Regions from separate parts of the Homo sapiens genome. Here regions 2 and 3 are each linked to region 1. The links come from fine-mapping of genetic effects on gene expression. A gene starts in region 1. Each other region holds a variant in brackets. All regions are shown on one strand. Distances are from middle to middle.

Evidence for each region. PIP is the estimated chance that this variant, and not a neighbour inherited with it, causes the effect.
Region 2: its variant is the best candidate, but not a certain one, in a credible set for the expression of ZFYVE21 in whole blood (INTERVAL, PIP 0.63).
Region 3: its variant is the best candidate, but not a certain one, in a credible set for the expression of ZFYVE21 in whole blood (INTERVAL, PIP 0.72).

What each region holds. Positions count from the first base shown.
Region 1 is chr14:103,713,316-103,719,703 of GRCh38, reverse strand. ZFYVE21 (zinc finger FYVE-type containing 21) reads right to left here and starts at 3,894. Exons shown (of 7, transcript NM_024071.4): 1 at 3,725-3,894. The coding sequence starts at 3,862. It overlaps XRCC3 (X-ray repair cross complementing 3), which reads left to right and starts at 4,253. Exons shown (of 10, transcript NM_005432.4): 1 at 4,253-4,280. RefSeq lists enhancers at 1,020-1,530, 4,767-5,452 and silencers at 3,081-3,160, 3,221-3,290, 3,391-3,470, 3,661-4,230, 4,311-4,570.
Region 2 is chr14:103,790,223-103,795,222 of GRCh38, reverse strand. The region is part of intron 2 of PPP1R13B (protein phosphatase 1 regulatory subunit 13B); the gene reads left to right. Among named protein-coding and RNA genes, the nearest start is that of PPP1R13B, 55 kb to the left of the region's middle. RefSeq lists enhancers at 1-73, 74-575. The variant C/T (reference allele first, on the strand shown) is at 2,999.
Region 3 is chr14:103,836,041-103,841,040 of GRCh38, reverse strand. The region is part of intron 1 of PPP1R13B (protein phosphatase 1 regulatory subunit 13B); the gene reads left to right. Among named protein-coding and RNA genes, the nearest start is that of PPP1R13B, 9.0 kb to the left of the region's middle. The variant C/T (reference allele first, on the strand shown) is at 2,973.

The sequences.
Region 1 (6,388 bases):
TGAGCTTTACCCAAGCGCTGAGATCCTGGAAACAATTATGAAACCCCCCACCCTGCAGTGTGCTGGGAAAGCCTTCCACCGAGAACCACCCTCCCCATACGAGCCAGAGGAGATCACAGATGCCCCCCTTGCTTACCTGCAGCAAGGCCCTCCAAATTCCCATTCTCTGCCTCAGAAAACACTGGCCATTTCTCCTCATGATCAACTGGAACACAATTCCCTTACCTGGACTTTTTTTTTTTTTTTTTTGAGACAGAGTCTTGCTCTGTCACCCAGGCTGAAGTGCAGTGGCACAATCTTGGCTCATTGCAACCTCCTCTTCCCGGTTCAAGTGATTCTCCTGCCTCAGCCTCCTGAGCTGGGATACAGGCACACACCACCACGCCCGACTAATTTTTGAATTTTTATTATTTATTTATTTATTTTGAGACGGAGTCTCGCTTGGTCGCCCAGGCTGGAGTGCAGCTGCACGATCTCAGCTCACTGCAACCTCCACTTCCTGGGTTCAAGTGATTCTCCTGTCTCAGCCTCCCAAGTAGCTGGAATTACAGGCACTCATCACCACGCCCAGCTAATTTTTGTATTCTGGCCTCAGCTCTCTGATCTGCTGGAGGTCCTGACCCTCCACTGGCCCATCCCACCTCCCCAGCTTGATTCTTTCTAGCCTTGGCCACTCCTCCCTGCAAAAGAAAAGCCCTGTCCGGCCTGGCCTGTGAGACCCTCGCAGAACTCAGGGTCCCCTGTTCTCCCCGCTGCACAGCTCCAGACGCCTCTAGCAACAGTCCTCACTTCAGATCTCTCCTCATCCGAGTCCAGGCTCGTGATCAGACGCGCACGTGCTCTCTCCTTCCTGGCTCTGAATCTAGAGTATCCATCAAAGTGTCAACCCGCCAGCATGGAGCTGCGGTCATTCTTCTGCCAGCACCACGGATGGGAGGTGGGAGGGGTGCACAGCGGCAAGGATTTTAAGGATAAAACTCAGGATCTCAGCTGCTTGTGACAAGCCCAGATGGCTGCACGCCCGGACCGCCCACCCCCAAGCCCACTGCCTTGCGTCAGTGTCGGATATTTGATGGCAGAGTCAGACAAGCCCCAGAGATCATCTGAAGCTTCCTTCACACCCCCAAAGCACCTCTATCCAAAGTGGTGTCGCACGAAGCTTTACACGCCGCCTCTGCCTCCCCTGCCCCACAGGTTCCTGAGGAGGCACAGACTGGAGAAACGATTCTCAACTGGTTCTGCGTCAGAGCCTTGAGAATCTGAGAGCTGCAGGCCACCTCTCGGAGAAAGGTGCATGTGTGCACATGCTCCCCAGGGGGTTTTGCAGCATTTTAAAGGGATAACCCTCATGGGCCCAAACTGATAAACCAGCCCGGTCAGGCAGCTGGTATTCGGGAGACGGGCACTGGGCTGGATTCAGACTCCCCTGGCTAAGAACAGAGCTGGAATGAAAATGGACCAACACGTTTACAGATATGACGATGATGCCGATCGGCACACGGCCACCAAGCCAAGGACAATGTTACCCACCTGCCAAGTTCTACCAAATTCTCCTCTCCCCATTCCAAACCACCTCAAATAAACCTATTTCCCACAACTGGTTATCTGCACATTTGAGTCACCTCCCGACAATCACCTTAGCGGCCCCAAGCACGCAGCCAGCACAGTGTAGCTCAGTGTCCCCTTCAGCATCACCACATGCCAGGCGACTGTTACCGTACATGTCCCCTCGAGCTATTGCACCTAAAGCTGGACTTTATTCCAAATCTTCCAGCCCTTACTGCCCCGTTCTAAGTTCCTCCAGAACACTGTCTTTGGTCGTTTCTGGCCTGTAAGACCATGCTCCAATACAATTCACAACGCAAAACTCAGAGACAAAGTCCATCTTATTAGAATGGTTTCTCTGTCCCCCAAGCCCACCCAATGCTAGGACCTCCCTCAGCTGCTCAGATCCCAGTTAATCATCCAAACATGGTGGGGGGCTCTGGAGGGGTATCCTGCCACCACGCCAGCGTGGGAATGAATCTTCTCTTCCACGAGGGGTGCCACCTTGACTCAAGTGTTTCAACTCCACTCAGTCGGAAGTCACCGCGGGACTGCCACACAGTGCCTCAGCAGAGGCCACAAAGAAAGGCAGGGAAAAATGCTAAACAATTCAGCTGATACCAGAAGGGCTCTGGAAGAGAGAATGAAGGAGGGGAACACAGTGGTTCACTATAAAACAGAACCGTAAGATCAGTGCATGTGTACAGCAGGGAGAAAGAAATTGTGCTTTGGTGGAAACCTCTGCCTCATCTTGGCCACACTTTCTCACGTGCTCCTTACGGTTCATACAGACGTAGAGTATTTCTGTGCTATTAAGAGTTCGTTACACCATAAATACAATTTTCACGTGTCAACTTAAAAGTAAATTTTAAAAAAGATGAAGGAGGATGATTGGCGGAAAGTGTCTAAAAAGACTCCTCATGGTGGCGATACTGGGGAGAGGTGGGCAGCACTGGTCTCAACTCTCCAGGACACGCTCAGTGACCGGTGATGGCTCCGTACACTGTAGATGCCAGAGACACTTCCCCAGAGTCACTCGAATTCCGTCCTGTCCCCGAGGCTCTGTGGCCGCTCACCCCCCACCAGGCCTCCAACCAAGCTTCAATGAACCCAGTCAATTAGTGCTACTTTGACTTCTTGAACCTAGTTCCAACGTCTGCTTAGTTCTATCACTGAGGGAATTAAACGAATCTGTAACACGTGTTAAGTATGAAAGTCATATTACAAAAATTCTTTTTCTCCCCCAATTTTTTTTTTATCGTGGTAAAATCCACAGAACAGAAACTGGACACACCTGTTAGCGCACAGCCAGTGGGATTAAATGCACTCGGGGCCTTCCCAGTTGGCCAAGGGGCTGGTGTGAGGCAAAGGCACCTCCGATCAGGTCACAGGGAACCCCACGGGAGGCCCAGCGGATGGCCTGGCTCAGGGACCCCACGCCCACGCCCCAATGTCTGCAGGAGTGGCCTGGGCAACTCCTGCCGTGTCTGGGCCCATGGGAAACGGGTGCAAATCTGCGGTCTCCTTCAAACTGTCCAGTGGGCGACTGCGACCTCGCTTCCGAGGTGGAGGGTGGTATAGACGAAGGGAAACGGGGGGCAGCCTGGCCCGCAGACTGGGTCCTGGCCCTCCTTCCGAGCAGGAGGTGGCTTCGGAACCGGCCACCCGCCCGCGGCACCGACGCCTCCCCCGGTTCCCGGGAGGGACCCCTGCGGGGCCGCCAGCTCCAGCGCTTCCGCGGACAGCACGCGCCCTCCCCACCGAGCCTGCGAGGAAGGCGCTCCGCCTTCCACTTTCTCGGGAGCGAGCCCCAGCTCTCGGGACGCAGTCCACACGCGCTAGCCCAGCACGAACCGGCCTCGGGCAGGGCCGCACCCACCCCCGGGACCAGCCCGCGCCCCGCACCCCGCCTCCCGGCGCCCGCCCTGGACAGGTGCCTCCTGCCCTCCCGGGACCCCCGCACCGGGACACCGCGCGCCTCCCGCCCTCCCCGCGGGCGTAGGAGCCTGAGGCGGCGGCCCGGGGACGCGGCCAACCTGGGAGAGAGCGGGGGCGGGGGCCGGCTGGGGAAGGGGCCGCCCGGAGGCGGAGGGGTCGTCGCGGGAGCCTGGAAGCCCGCGGGGCCGGGCCGGGGCGGCGGGGCGGGTCGGAGGCGCTGGCCGGGGCGACGGCCACCCACCTCCTTGTCCGGGACCCACTGCGGCTCCTCCAGGCCGAACGGGCTTCCGAAGGCGCGGTGTTCGGGCACCATGCGCAGGCCGCTCGGGGAGCGCACCAGCTTCTTGGCGTCGCGGCGCGCGGACACCTCGGAGGACATGACGCCGCCTCAGCCTCTCGGCCAGCGGCCCCGCACCCGGCCCCTCGCCCAGCCCGGGGCACCGCCCGCCCCGCCCCGGTCCGCGCGCGGCTGACAGCGCCGGCGTCCAATCGCCAAGCCCGCCACGGAGCGCGGACTAATCGGAGCTTGAACTCCGCCCCATCGCTGCCCTCTCCAATCCGTGTAAGGGCACCGCCCCTGCAACCCTGAGGTCGATCACCAATCGGCGGCGAGGGCTGGCCCGGGTACGCTCCGCCCCTCTCAGGGAGATTGAGACTTTGGATTGGTTAGTTAGTCAGTCACGTTAGCGCCGCTTCGTCTCTGATTGGTGTAGCCCACTCAGGGTGCTAGGCGCCTATTGGAGGAGAAGGCCGAGAGGAGCAGGACGGCGGGAAGAGGAGTGCGGAACCCGCGGGAGGTGAGGCCCGCCGAGCCGGGCTGCGAGCCGGGCTGCGAGCCGGGCGGCAGCGGGGTCGGAGGTCGTGGGCGGCAGCGGGCGTGAGGGGTGAGGCAGGGTCAAGGGGCGGGGGCGGCCGCGGGTCTCCATTGCCCGAGCCTGTGGGAGCAGGCGGGCCTGGGGCTGCAGCACTCACCCCGGGAGCCCCGCCGCAGCTCGGGTAGCGTTCAGGCACCTCGCCGGGGCCGGGCCGCGTGCGTTCGGAGCGGGGAAGGCGGTCTCCGGGGCCCCCGGTGCGCGCGGGGAGGCGTCCGCTCAGGGGAGGCCGAGGTGGGCCCGCGGCTGCGCCCCCGGCCTTCGATGCCTTCGCTCGTCCGCCTGGGACCGCGCTGGCTTCGCATCGAAGTGGGAGAGGTCTGAACAGTTATTTTAATACTTTGATTTGGAAAGAAAATCCTTTAGGCCGGGCGCGGTGGCTCACGCCTGTAATCCGAGCACTTTGGGAGGCCGAGGCGGGCGGATCACGAGGTCAGGAGTTCAAGACCAGCCTGGCCAACATGGTGAAACCCCGTCTCTACTAAAAATACAAAAATTAGCTGGGTGTGGTGGCACGTGCCTGTAATCCCAGCTGCTTGGGAGGCTGAGGCAGGAGAATTGTTTGAACCAGGACCCGGGAGGCGGAGGTTGCAGTGAGCCGAGATCACATTACTGCACTCCAGCCTGGGCTACAGAAAAAGACTCCATCTCAGAAAGCACACAAAAAAAAGAAGAAAATGTTTGTTCATCCTGCCTTTAATTCCTTATTACAAGGCGTGAATTTTTATTGTTTTTTTTGAGACAGTCTGGCTCTGTCATCCGGGGTGGAGTGCAGTGGCGTCTTCACAGCTAGGCACAACCTCGACCTCCCAGGCTCTCAAGTAGCTGGGACCGCAAGCGCCACTACACTGGCCAGCTATTTTTCTTTTTTTTTTTTTTTTTCGGTAGAGAGTAGGTCTTGCTGTGTTGCCCAGGCTGGTCTTGAACTCCTGGGCTCAGGCGACCTTGGCCGCCTTGGCCTCCCACGGTGCTGGGATGACAGGCATCAGCAGTGTTGAAGCCTGTGAGGTGGGGTCCCTGTGGCTGACTCTGCCCTCTCCTGGGGCCATTGGCAGTGCAGGGGTCCTTGTGTGTGGAGGAAATAAGGAGATGATCAAAGTATGATTCCACGAATCACACGGTTTATTGTCAAAGAAGATTTGTTCTCGGGTTCACAGTGCTCAGAGGGGAGGAGAGGGGAGGAGGTGAAGACACCTGGCAGGGAAGCAGGGCCTCCATGGATGGGGTGCATTCACGGCAGGGAGGTGAGTGGCAGAACGGCCAGGGTCCGGTTGCTCTGCTGGGATGGAGCGGGCCCCTGGAGAGTGAGATCTGGTGAGAGTTCGAGGTTTGCCTTGGTAGCAGTGGAGAGCGTGAGAGCGGGAGCTCTCTGAGAAGCTGGGACCGAGGTCCAGCTCCCAGGCCAGCAGCGTATAGCTTGCCTCAAAGCATCTGCACAACCTTCAAGCTGATGTCTGTTTTTGCAGTCCAGCAGTCAGGGTCAGTAACTCACATAAGGGAGTGTCTGACAAGGTTTAAGTGGCATTCCCAAGGTTGCGGAGTTCACTCAAGTCCTCACATATGTGGTCTGATAAGACATCACACTCTTGCAGGGGGGTCAGGTCACCCCAAAACATCAGACTATGTAAGTGCTGTGAATCACTTCAAAGCTACACAGCAGGTCCCAGGGCCCAAGGCAGAGGAGTGAGTCCACCTCGGAAGGCTCAGAGCAGCTCCAGGCAGTAACCACGGCATTTCCAGAGTCTGGTGTGTGAGCCTAACAGCTCTGGTGTGACCGTCCGTACTCACCTAGCAGCACGTGACATCAGCTCTCCCCCTGAAGTCATTGCTCAGCTCGGGTGCTGCAGGAAGACATACAGGTCTGTCTTGGGCCAGCCCCTTGCCTGCTGTGGGCTGCTCCCTGTGTGTGGCCTTCACCCCGGTGTAGAGAGATGGGCTGGTCACACCCCTGCCCCTCACAGCGGCGAGAGGACAGAGGCATGTGCCGGGCTGTCTGTGGAGCTCCCAGGCCAGTGTCTGGGATGCGGCAGGTG
Region 2 (5,000 bases), 76 kb before region 1:
CTCTTGCCTCTAATCCCAGCCCTTTAGGAGGCCAAGGCGGGTGGATCACTTGAAGCCAGGAGTTGGAGACCAGCCTGGCCAGCACGTCAAAACCCCATCTCTACTAAAAATACAAAAATTAGCCAGGCATGGTGGCACACGCCTATAGTCCCAGCTTCTTGGGAGGCAGGAGAATCCCTTGAAACCCGGAGGCGGAGGTTGCAGTGAGCCAAGAGTGTGCCACTGCACTCCAGCCTGGGCGACAGAGCGAGACTGTCTCAAAAAAAAACAAACAAACATAATGTAGTAGTAGTTTTTATCTCTATCTTGTTGGACTAAAATTCCTGAAGGCGGGAACTTGTCTGTTGTTCACCATTATATCCCCAGTGTCCAGCCTAGTGTTCATAGAAGGCACTTAGTAAACACAGATTAGTAAGTAAAATGGCCAACGAAGCTGGATCTAGGAAGAAGAGAAGGTAACTTCCAGTGGATGCCATCAAAGGGAGAGGGCAAGCACTGTAACAGCCTTTCTCAGTCCTTTTACCTAGAGGAACCCTTACAGAGATTTTTTTTTTTTTAGGTTTCAGAGAACCCTCACATAAAACTTACTGCACCTGGCCGGGCACTGTGGCTCACTCTTGTAATCTCAACACTTTGGGAGGCCGAGGTGGGTGGATCACCTGAGGTCAGGAGTTTGAGACCAGCCTGGCCAACATGGTGAAACCCTGTCTCTACTAAAAAAACAAAAAATTAGCTGGGCATGGTGGTGGGCACCTGTAATCCCTGCTACTCGGGAGGCTGAGGCAGGAGAATCGCTTGAACCTGGGAGGCGGAGGTTGCAGTGAGCCGAGATTGTGCCACTGCACTCCAGCCTGGGCAACAAGAGTGAAACTTCATCTCAAAAAAAAAAAAAAACAAAAAACAAATTACTGCCCCCATAACTGCTGACATTAGTATGATCAGTATGTCGTAGATAGAATCCTTCAATAGTAATTATCAGTGCTTTCCAGTAGAGCCGTTTCACTGTGGATCTGTGCATTATTTTGCTGAGGCTGCCGTAACAAAGTGCCACAGACTGGGTGGCTTAAACAACAGTAATTTATTTTCTCACAGTGATGGAGGCCAGAAGTCTGAGATGAAGGTGTCAGCAGGCTTGGTTTATTCTGAAGACTCTCTCTCTCTTTGACTTGTAGATGGTTTTCTTTTCTTCCCTCCATGCCTGTCTGTGGACAAACCTCCCCCTCTTGTAAGGACACTAGTCATATTGGATTAGGGGCCACTTTGATCTCTTCATTTTATCTTCTTGCCTCTTTAAAAGTCCTGTCTCCAAATACAGTTAAATTTCGAGGTACTTGAGGTCAGGACTACAACAGATGAATTTAGCGGGGACACAGTTCAGCCTGTAACAGTCTGTTAATTTGGCCAGGTCATTAGCTACTCTGTGTGGTTCCCTTCCCCACACAGGTGTCAGTTCTAATGGCAGTCAGTAAGGTAGATAAAACCTTCCATTTTTATCTTTTGTTAAGTTTCCTACTTGAGGTTTTTTAACCTTATTTAAAGTTCCTAAAAGTCTTATAATAGATTTCCATTATACAAGATGCTAATTAGGTATATTTTATATTACATGATATGTATAGGGTAGTTAGTCCATTTTCATACTGCTATAAAGAACTGCCAGAGATGGAATGATTTATAAAGGAAAAAGGTTTAATTTACTCACAGTTCTGCAAGGCTGGGGAGGCCTCAGGAAACTTACAATCATGACAGAAGGTGAAGGGAAAGCAAGGCAGCTCCTCCACAAGGTGGCAGGAAGGAGAAATGTCAAGTGAAGGGGGAAGAGCCCCTTCTAAAACCATCAGTTTTCATGAGAACTCACTCACTATCATGAGAAACCACCTCCATGATTCAGTGACCTCCATCTGGTCTCTCCCTTGACATGTGGGGATTATGGGGATTACAATTCAAGATGAGATTTGGGTGGGGACATAAAACCTAACCAGATCAGTAGTGTTTTTTCCTTTTCTTTCCTTTTCTTTCCTTTCCTCACTTCTCTTCCCTTTTCTTCCCTTCTCTCCCTTCTCTTCCCTTCCCCTCCTTTCCCTCCCCTCCCCTCCCCTCCCATTGCCTTCCCTCCCCTTCCCTCCCCTCCCCTTCCTTCCCTTCCCCTTTTCTATGACAGAGTCTCGCCCTGTCGCCCAAGCTGGAGTGCAGTGGCGCATTCTCAGTTGACTGCAACCTCTGCCTCCCAGGTTCCAGTGATTCTCCTGCCTCAGCCTCCCTGAGTAGCTGGGACTACAGGCATGCGCCACCATGCCCGGCTAATTTTTTGCATTTTTTAGTAGAGACGAGGTTTCACCATATTGGCCAGGCTGGTCTCGAACTCCTGACCTCGTGATCCACCTGCCTCGGCCTCCCAAAGTGCTGGGATTACAGGCATGAGCCACTGCACCCAGCCTCTTTTTCTTTTTTTTGAGACAGAGTCTTGCTCAGTTGCCCAGGTTGGAGTGAAGTGGTATGATCATAGCTCACTGCAGCCTTAAACTCCTGGGCTCAAGGGATCCTTCCATCTCAGCCTCACAAGTAGCTGGGAGCACAGGCAAACTGCACAGTGCCCAGACAATCCTTTTATTTATTTATTTTTTGTAGAGACAGGGTCTTGTCATGTTGATCGGGTTGTGTTTTTTCTACTTTAAAACGAAAATTATGTTCAGTTAAACTTCCTTAAAAAAATATAGCGAAGCTTTCTTGAAATTAATCTTCTCAAAATTTTGCCAGGTGCAGTAGCTCACACCTGTAATCCCAGCACTTGAGGCCAAGGCTGGCAGATTGCTTGAGCCCAGAACTTCGAGACCAACCTTGGCAATGTGGCCAAACCCCATCTCTACAAAAAATACAAAAATTAGCTGGGCGTGGTGGCACATGCCTGTAGTCCCAGCTACTAGAGAGGTTGAGGTGGGACGATCGCTTGATCACACCACTGCACTTCAGTGCTCCAGCCTGGGTGACAGAGGACAGAGTG[C/T]GACCCTGTCTTTAAAAAAATATACACACACACACACACACACACACACACACACGATGAATAGAGGGAAACAATAAATTTCTGTTAAATAACTGGCTTAAGACAAAATGGGTTTTAATTTTTATTAGGTTATGTTCAGACTTGGTATATTTAAATATAGGTTGTAAATTGATTTTAATAAATGTAAAAGTTTAAAAGTTGATTTTAATGTAAAAAAATGAAAATTTACTGACAATGTTGATTAGTAAAACAACTAAAAATAAAGCTACTAAATGATAAGCCTAAGCAATGTGAATAAAAATGTGGCCTAAGACACAATTTTATGCAAAACTGAGAAACATGATTTAGCTAAATATAGGCCTTGCAGTTAGAAAAGGCCAATACACTTGCTTTTAAAAATCTTTTTATAGGCATATGTGTATATAAAAAAATGCTACTTTCAAAACTAAAAATATGGAATGAAATTTACTTCTATATATATATTTTGTTTGTTTGTTTGTTTTGAGATGGAGTCTTGCTCTGTCCCAGGCTGGAGTGCCCTGGCAGGATCTCGGCTCACTACAACCTCCACCTCGTGGGTTCAAGCTATTCTCCACCTCAGCCTCCCGAGTAGCTGGGATTATAGGCGTGTGCCACCACGCCTGGCTAAGTTTTGTATTTTTAGTAGAGACGGGATTTCACCATGTTGGCCAGGCTGGTCTCGAATTCCTGACCCCATGATCTGCCCGCCTTGGCCTCCCAAAGTGCTGGGATTATAGGCGTGAGCCACTGCTCCCGGCTGAAATTTACTTCTTTAATGTTTAACTTGTCATTGTTTTTTGCTCTACAGATACTTAGTTCTGATATGAACTTGAGCTAAGCACAGACAGATTTCATTTTCAACTAAGATGAGACCGTTTCTGTTTTTGCCTTTGATGTTTGTTAAATAAGACAAAGCTAGAGCCAGGCGTGATTGTTTGCGCCTGTAGTCCCAGCTACAGTAGGCTGAGGCAGGAGGATCCCTTGAGCCCGGAAGTTCAAGGCTACAGTGAGCTATGATCATATCACTGCACTTTAGCCTGGGTGGCAGAGTGAGACCCCATCTCTTAAAAAAAAAAAAAGAAGAAAAAAGTCAGCAGCATAATGTGCATTATATTTCTATGAATGGCAGGATTTTCTTTATGCAAATCTAGAACTTACCTAGGAATGGAACAGTAAATTACAATCACTTATACCTTGAATCTGTGCTTAGATTGTGTAGCTCACAAAGTTTTATCTCTTGTCTTGACATCAAATTCTTTGGTTGCACTGAAGATTTAGAGTTATAAATCTTAAGTATAAACACAAGTTTATAGCTGTATTACAGGCACGCCATCACACCCGGCTAATTTTTGTGTATTTCTTGTAGAGATGAGGTTTCGCCATGTTTACCAGGCTGGTCTCCAACTCCTGACCTCAAGTGATCCGCTTGCCTTGGCTTCCCAAAGTGCTGGGATCACAGGCGTGAGCCACCCACGCTCAGCCTGTTTACTTTTGAGACAAGGTCTCATTCTGTCACGCAGGCTGGAGTGCAGTGGTACCATCTTGGCTCACTGCAACCTCCACCTCCCAGGCTAGTTTTCTGCACTTTTAGTAAAGATGGGGTTTTGCCATGTTGCCCAGGCTGACCTCAAACTCCTGAGCTCAAGCGATCCACCTGCCTTGGCCTCCCAAAGTGCTGGGATTACAGCCGTGGGCCACCATGTCTTGGGCCTCTTTTGTAGGGGCACTAAACCCATTTATGAAGATAGAGCTCTCATGACCTAATCGCTTCTCAAAGACCCCACCTCCTAATATTACCACATTGGGGATTCAGTTTCAACATATGAATTTTAGGGGAACACAAACATTCAGACCATAGCAGATTGTTTACGTTTTTGGTTCTTATGAATAAATCTCCTGTGAACATTCATGGACAAAAGTTTGTGTGGACATGTTTTCATTTCTTTTTTTTTTTTTTTGAGACAGGGTCTCACTCTGTATC
Region 3 (5,000 bases), 120 kb before region 1:
CGTTGGGATTACAGGCGTGAGCCACTGCTGCTGGCAAAAAAAATTTTTAATTAATATGTTTATATATGTTTCTGAGGTATATGTGATATTTTGTTACATGCATAGAATGTGTAATGATCAAGTCAGGGTATTTGGGATATCCATTGCTTCTAGCACTTACCATTTCCATGTGTTGGGAACATTTCAGTGGCTCTCCTGTTTCAAAATACACAATAATGTTCTTTTCTTTTCTTTCTTTCTTTTTTTTTTTGAGAGGAAGTCTCCTTCTGTTGCCCAGGCTGGGGTGCAGGGGTGCCATCTCGGCTTACTGCAACCTCCACCTCCCAGGTTCAAGCAATTTTCCTGCCTCATCCTCCAAAGCAGCTGGGTTTACAGGCATGTGCTTCCACACCCAGCTAATATTTTTGTATTTTTAGGAGAGACAGGGTTTCACCATGTTGGCCAAGCTGGTCTCAAACTCCTGACCTCAAATGATCTGCCCACCTCGGCCTCCCAAAGTGCTGGAATTACAGGCGTGAGCCACTGCGCCCTGCCAAAAAGAGGTAGTTTTTTCCACCTGGAGTTTAGGGACAACTCAGTTTTAAATGTAAATGTGTTAAATGTATTTTCTTCATTCCTTTCTCAGCATCCTACTCTGAACGGTTTTAGGATTAACAGTTTCTTAGGATTTTTAGCAAAATAAGAACTTAAAATATCACTGGGTTATTGTATTGAAGTTATATAACTGGTTGTCAACATGCGTTTGTATGTGTTTGCACAGATGGAGAATACTTTCTCAGCAAAAGTGTGGTGGGATTTTGGTGCCTTGAAATGCTGTTGTCATAGTTATTTCACAAACTGTGGTTCTAGGGCTAAACAGAGGAATGGTGGTAATCAGATTCTATTGTGACACTTTCTTGGCTTGATTGCTTTGCTTTATTTCACTGCAGAGATAGCTATATGACTGTTGTTCAGACTAATTGGTAAGCAAAAGCTGCTGTTACTGGATTTTGTAAAATAAGAATCTTTGGTGATATCATATAGAACAATATAAAACTGGAAAATTTAGGTAGTTTTTATTAAAATTTATGACATTTGAAATATTAGTGTACAGTTCAGTACAAGATCTTGTTAGTGGCATTATTGATGTGTTTAGAGAAAATGTTAACTGAGGTTTTAGCAGAATCATGATTTATGCCACATGTTGTGATTGTAATTATCATAGCTCAAGAAAATGCAAACGCCATGTGGTAGGAGCATGCCCAGCATGCTGGAGAAACAAAAGTAGGCCTGTGTGGCTGGAGCAGAGTGAGTAAGGGGGAAAGTGGAGGAGGTGAAGTCAGGTGATGGAGAGAGTAGTGTAGGATTGATCTTGTAGGGCCTTAGAGGCTATTGTAATGACAAAGGAGATAGAAAGATTTTTTTTTTTTTTTTGAGGCAGAGTTTTGCTCTTGTTGCCCAGGTTGGAGTGCAGTGGCATGATCTTGGGTCACCACAACCTCCACCTCCCAGGTTCAAGGGGTTCTTCTGACTCAGCCTCTCGAGTAGCTGGGATTACAGGCATGCACCACCACGCCCGGCTAATTTTGTATTTTTAGTGGAGATGGGGTTTCTCCATGTTGGTCAGGCTGGTCTCAAACTCCCAACGTCAGGTGATCTGCCTGCCTCAACCCCCCAAAGTGCTGGGGTTAACAGGCGTGAGCCACTGTGCCCGGCGAGAGATTTCTTTTATCAGAAATGAAACACAGTGGGCTGGGTGCTGTGGCTCACGCCTGTAATCCCAGCACTTTGGGAGGCTGAGGTGGGCAGATCACAAGGTTAGGAGATCAAGACCATCCTGGCTAACACGGTGAAATCCCGTCTCTACTAAAAATACAAAAAATTAGCTGGGTGTGGTGGCACGTGCCTGTAATCACAGCTACTTGGGAGGCTGAGGCAGGAGAATCGCTTGAACCTGGGAGGCAGAGATTGCGGTGAGCAGAGGTTGCGGTGAGCCGAGATTGCACCACTGCTCTCCAGCCTGGGTGACAAAGCAAGACTCTGTCTCAAAGAAAAAAAGAAAAAGAAATGAAACACAGTGGTCTGTGTTTATTGCATCGTAAGTAGTTCTGAGTAATAGTCATTGCCTAGGTGACTTTACTGTAGCAGGTAAGAGTGCAGACCCTCACTTTATTCTGCTTAAATATGGATGCTGGCATTGCCATTTGTGGGCTCTCTGACCTTAAAGTTACTTGACCCCTCACTTACCTCTGAGTTGAGCATAATAGTAACTTTACATTGTTGGTAGGAGGATCAGATGCATTAGTACGGTGAAAGTTGCCTGGCATGTAGTAAATGCTCAGTAAATATGTTATTTGTAAGCTCTGTTATTTCCTCTGGAAAGTTTTCACCGTCTCTGCCTTAGCCAACTCCACCATCAGAGGTGCTCACCCTGCCGTGTCTTTTTCTGGGGAGGGGGATATGGTATAATTCATGTGCTATAAAATTCACCTTTTAATGTGTACAGTTCATTGGTTTTCAGTATATGCACGAGACAACTATTGCCACTGTCTAATTTCAGATTATTTTATTTGGAGGTTCTTTGCAGTAATTGTCTTAGTTGTAATCTTAAACATTTGTTTGTGTGACTGGTTGATTTCTGTTTCTTGTCCTAGACTGTGAGCTTCATGAGAGCAGGAGCTCTCTCTTTTTGTTTCCCATTATACCACTGCCGTTTAGCCCAGTGATTGACACATAGTTGGTGCTAAATAAATATTTGTTGAATGAAGAAAGATATGATGTGGAAGGTCCTGTTGGACCCCATTGTGAAGAGCTGTGTGTGTCTGTGTGTGTGTGTGTGTGTGTGTGTGTGCCATAACAGAGTTAGACTTGATCCTGTAGAGATGATCAGAAACCACCAAATGTTTTTATTGTTGTTATTTACTTTATTTATTTGTTTATTTTGAGATGGAGTCTCACTCTGTCGCCCAGGCTGGAGTGCAGTGGTGTGATCT[C/T]GGCTCACTGCAACCTTCGCCTCCTAGGTTCAAGCGATTCTTCTGCCTCAGCCTCCCGAGGAGCTGGGACTACAGGTGTGCGCCACCATGCCTGGCTAATTTTTGTATTTTTATTAGAGATGGGGTTTCACCATGTTGTCCAGGCTGGTCTTGAACTCCTGACCTCAGGTGATCTGTCTGCCTTGGCCTCCCAAAGTGCTGGGATTACAGTTGTGAGCTGCCATGCCCAGCCAGAAACCACCAAATGTTTTTAAAAAGTGGAGTGATAGAGTCAGGTTTGTATGATAGAAAGATAATTCTAGAGCCAGAATTATTGGAAGAGAGATAGTTGGTGCAGTAAGGGAGATTAAAAATAAACAGGAAGAGTAGTTAGGAAACAAATTGTTGTAGGCCTGACTTGAGGACCTGAAGAAGAGAAAGATCCAGTTGAAAAGCAGTAAATAGATCGGATGGAGAGTGTGTGTATGTGTGCGTGTGAATGTGTGCATGTGAGGGAGTGAGTGCTTGCGTGCATGCACATGTAAGTGTGTGTGAGAGAGAGAGAGGAAGGAAGGAGGGAGGGAGGGAGATAGCTGGAATTGAGGATAACAGATTTATTGCTTCAGCAGCCAGGCTTGCCTTTCCTTTAAGATAGAAAATACTGCTTGAGAAAGGAGTAAGTTTAAAGGGTTGTGAGAATAAGGAGTTTTATTTTGGCTGTGTGGAGCTTGAGATAGATGCCTGCCATGTCCAGAAAGATGTTATCCTTAAATCTTAAGGTAAAATAGATATGTTAAATAAAACTTTTTGCCTATGTTCAGTGGCTTTAGCATAGTGGGTTCTGGATTGCTGCCTGGGCATCTGCAGCACCCACACACGTCCTCCCTGTGTTTCCGGTTTGCCTGATGAGCGTCACCCTGAGCCCACTGGACCAAGGTTCTCAGGGCAGGGACTGGACTCACTTTGTCCATCTTTGTGCTCCAGGCACCTGGCAGAGTTTATATGTACACTTTTTGTAGAGGTGTAATTTCTGTCTGTGTTGATTTCTTGTGTCCTGCTTTTTACTCAGTTGCATGTTTGTATTTCTATCCAATGACATTCTTGAAAATAGTATCAGTAAATAATAGTCAACATCACAAATTACCAAAGTATAAACAGAGATTTTTGTGATAGAGCTAGTATTTGTGATGGGAAATACAGATGTGAAAGTGTAGAGCATAGTGGTTATCAGCAAGTCCAGACCCGAGACTGTATATTCTGGCTTTGCCTCTTACTAACTCTGTGACTTTGGACAATTTTTTTTTTTTTTTTTTCTTTTCTGAGACAGACTCTTGCTCTGTTGCCCAGGCTGGAGTGCGATGGCGCTATCTTGGCTCACTGCAACCTCCGCCTCCCAGGTTTGAGTGATTCTCCTGCCTCAGCCTCCCGAGTAGCTGAGATTACAGGTGCGTGCCACCACGCCCAGCTAATTTTTTTTATCTTTAGTAGAGATGGGGTTTCGCCATGTTGGCTAGGCTGGTCTCAAACTCCTGACCTCATGATCCGCCTGCCTCTCCCTCCCAAAGTGCTGGGATTACAGGCATGAGCCACAGCGTCCAGCCAACTTTGGACAAATTGTTTAACCCCTTTGTGCCTTATTTTCCTATTTGTAAAAATGGGTTTAATAACACTATATTTCATGATACTGTTAGGATTGTCAGGTGCTTAGAGCATTGTCTGTTACTATATGTAATAAGTAGTTAGGGGCTGGGCATGGTGGTTCACGCCTGTAATCTCAGCACTTTGGGAGGCCAAGGCAGGCGGATCACCTGAGGTCAGGAATTCGAGACCAGCCTCGCCAACATAGTGAAACCCCATCTCTACTAAAAATATAAAAATCAGCCAGGTGTGGTGGCGGGCGCCTGTAATCTCAGCTATTTGGGAGGGTGAGGCAGGAGAATTGCTTGAGCCTGGGAGGCGGAAATTGCAGTGAGCTAAGATCGTGCCTCTGCACTCCAGCCTGGGCAACAAAGTGAGACTGTGTCTTAAAAAAAAAAAAAAAAGTCAGTA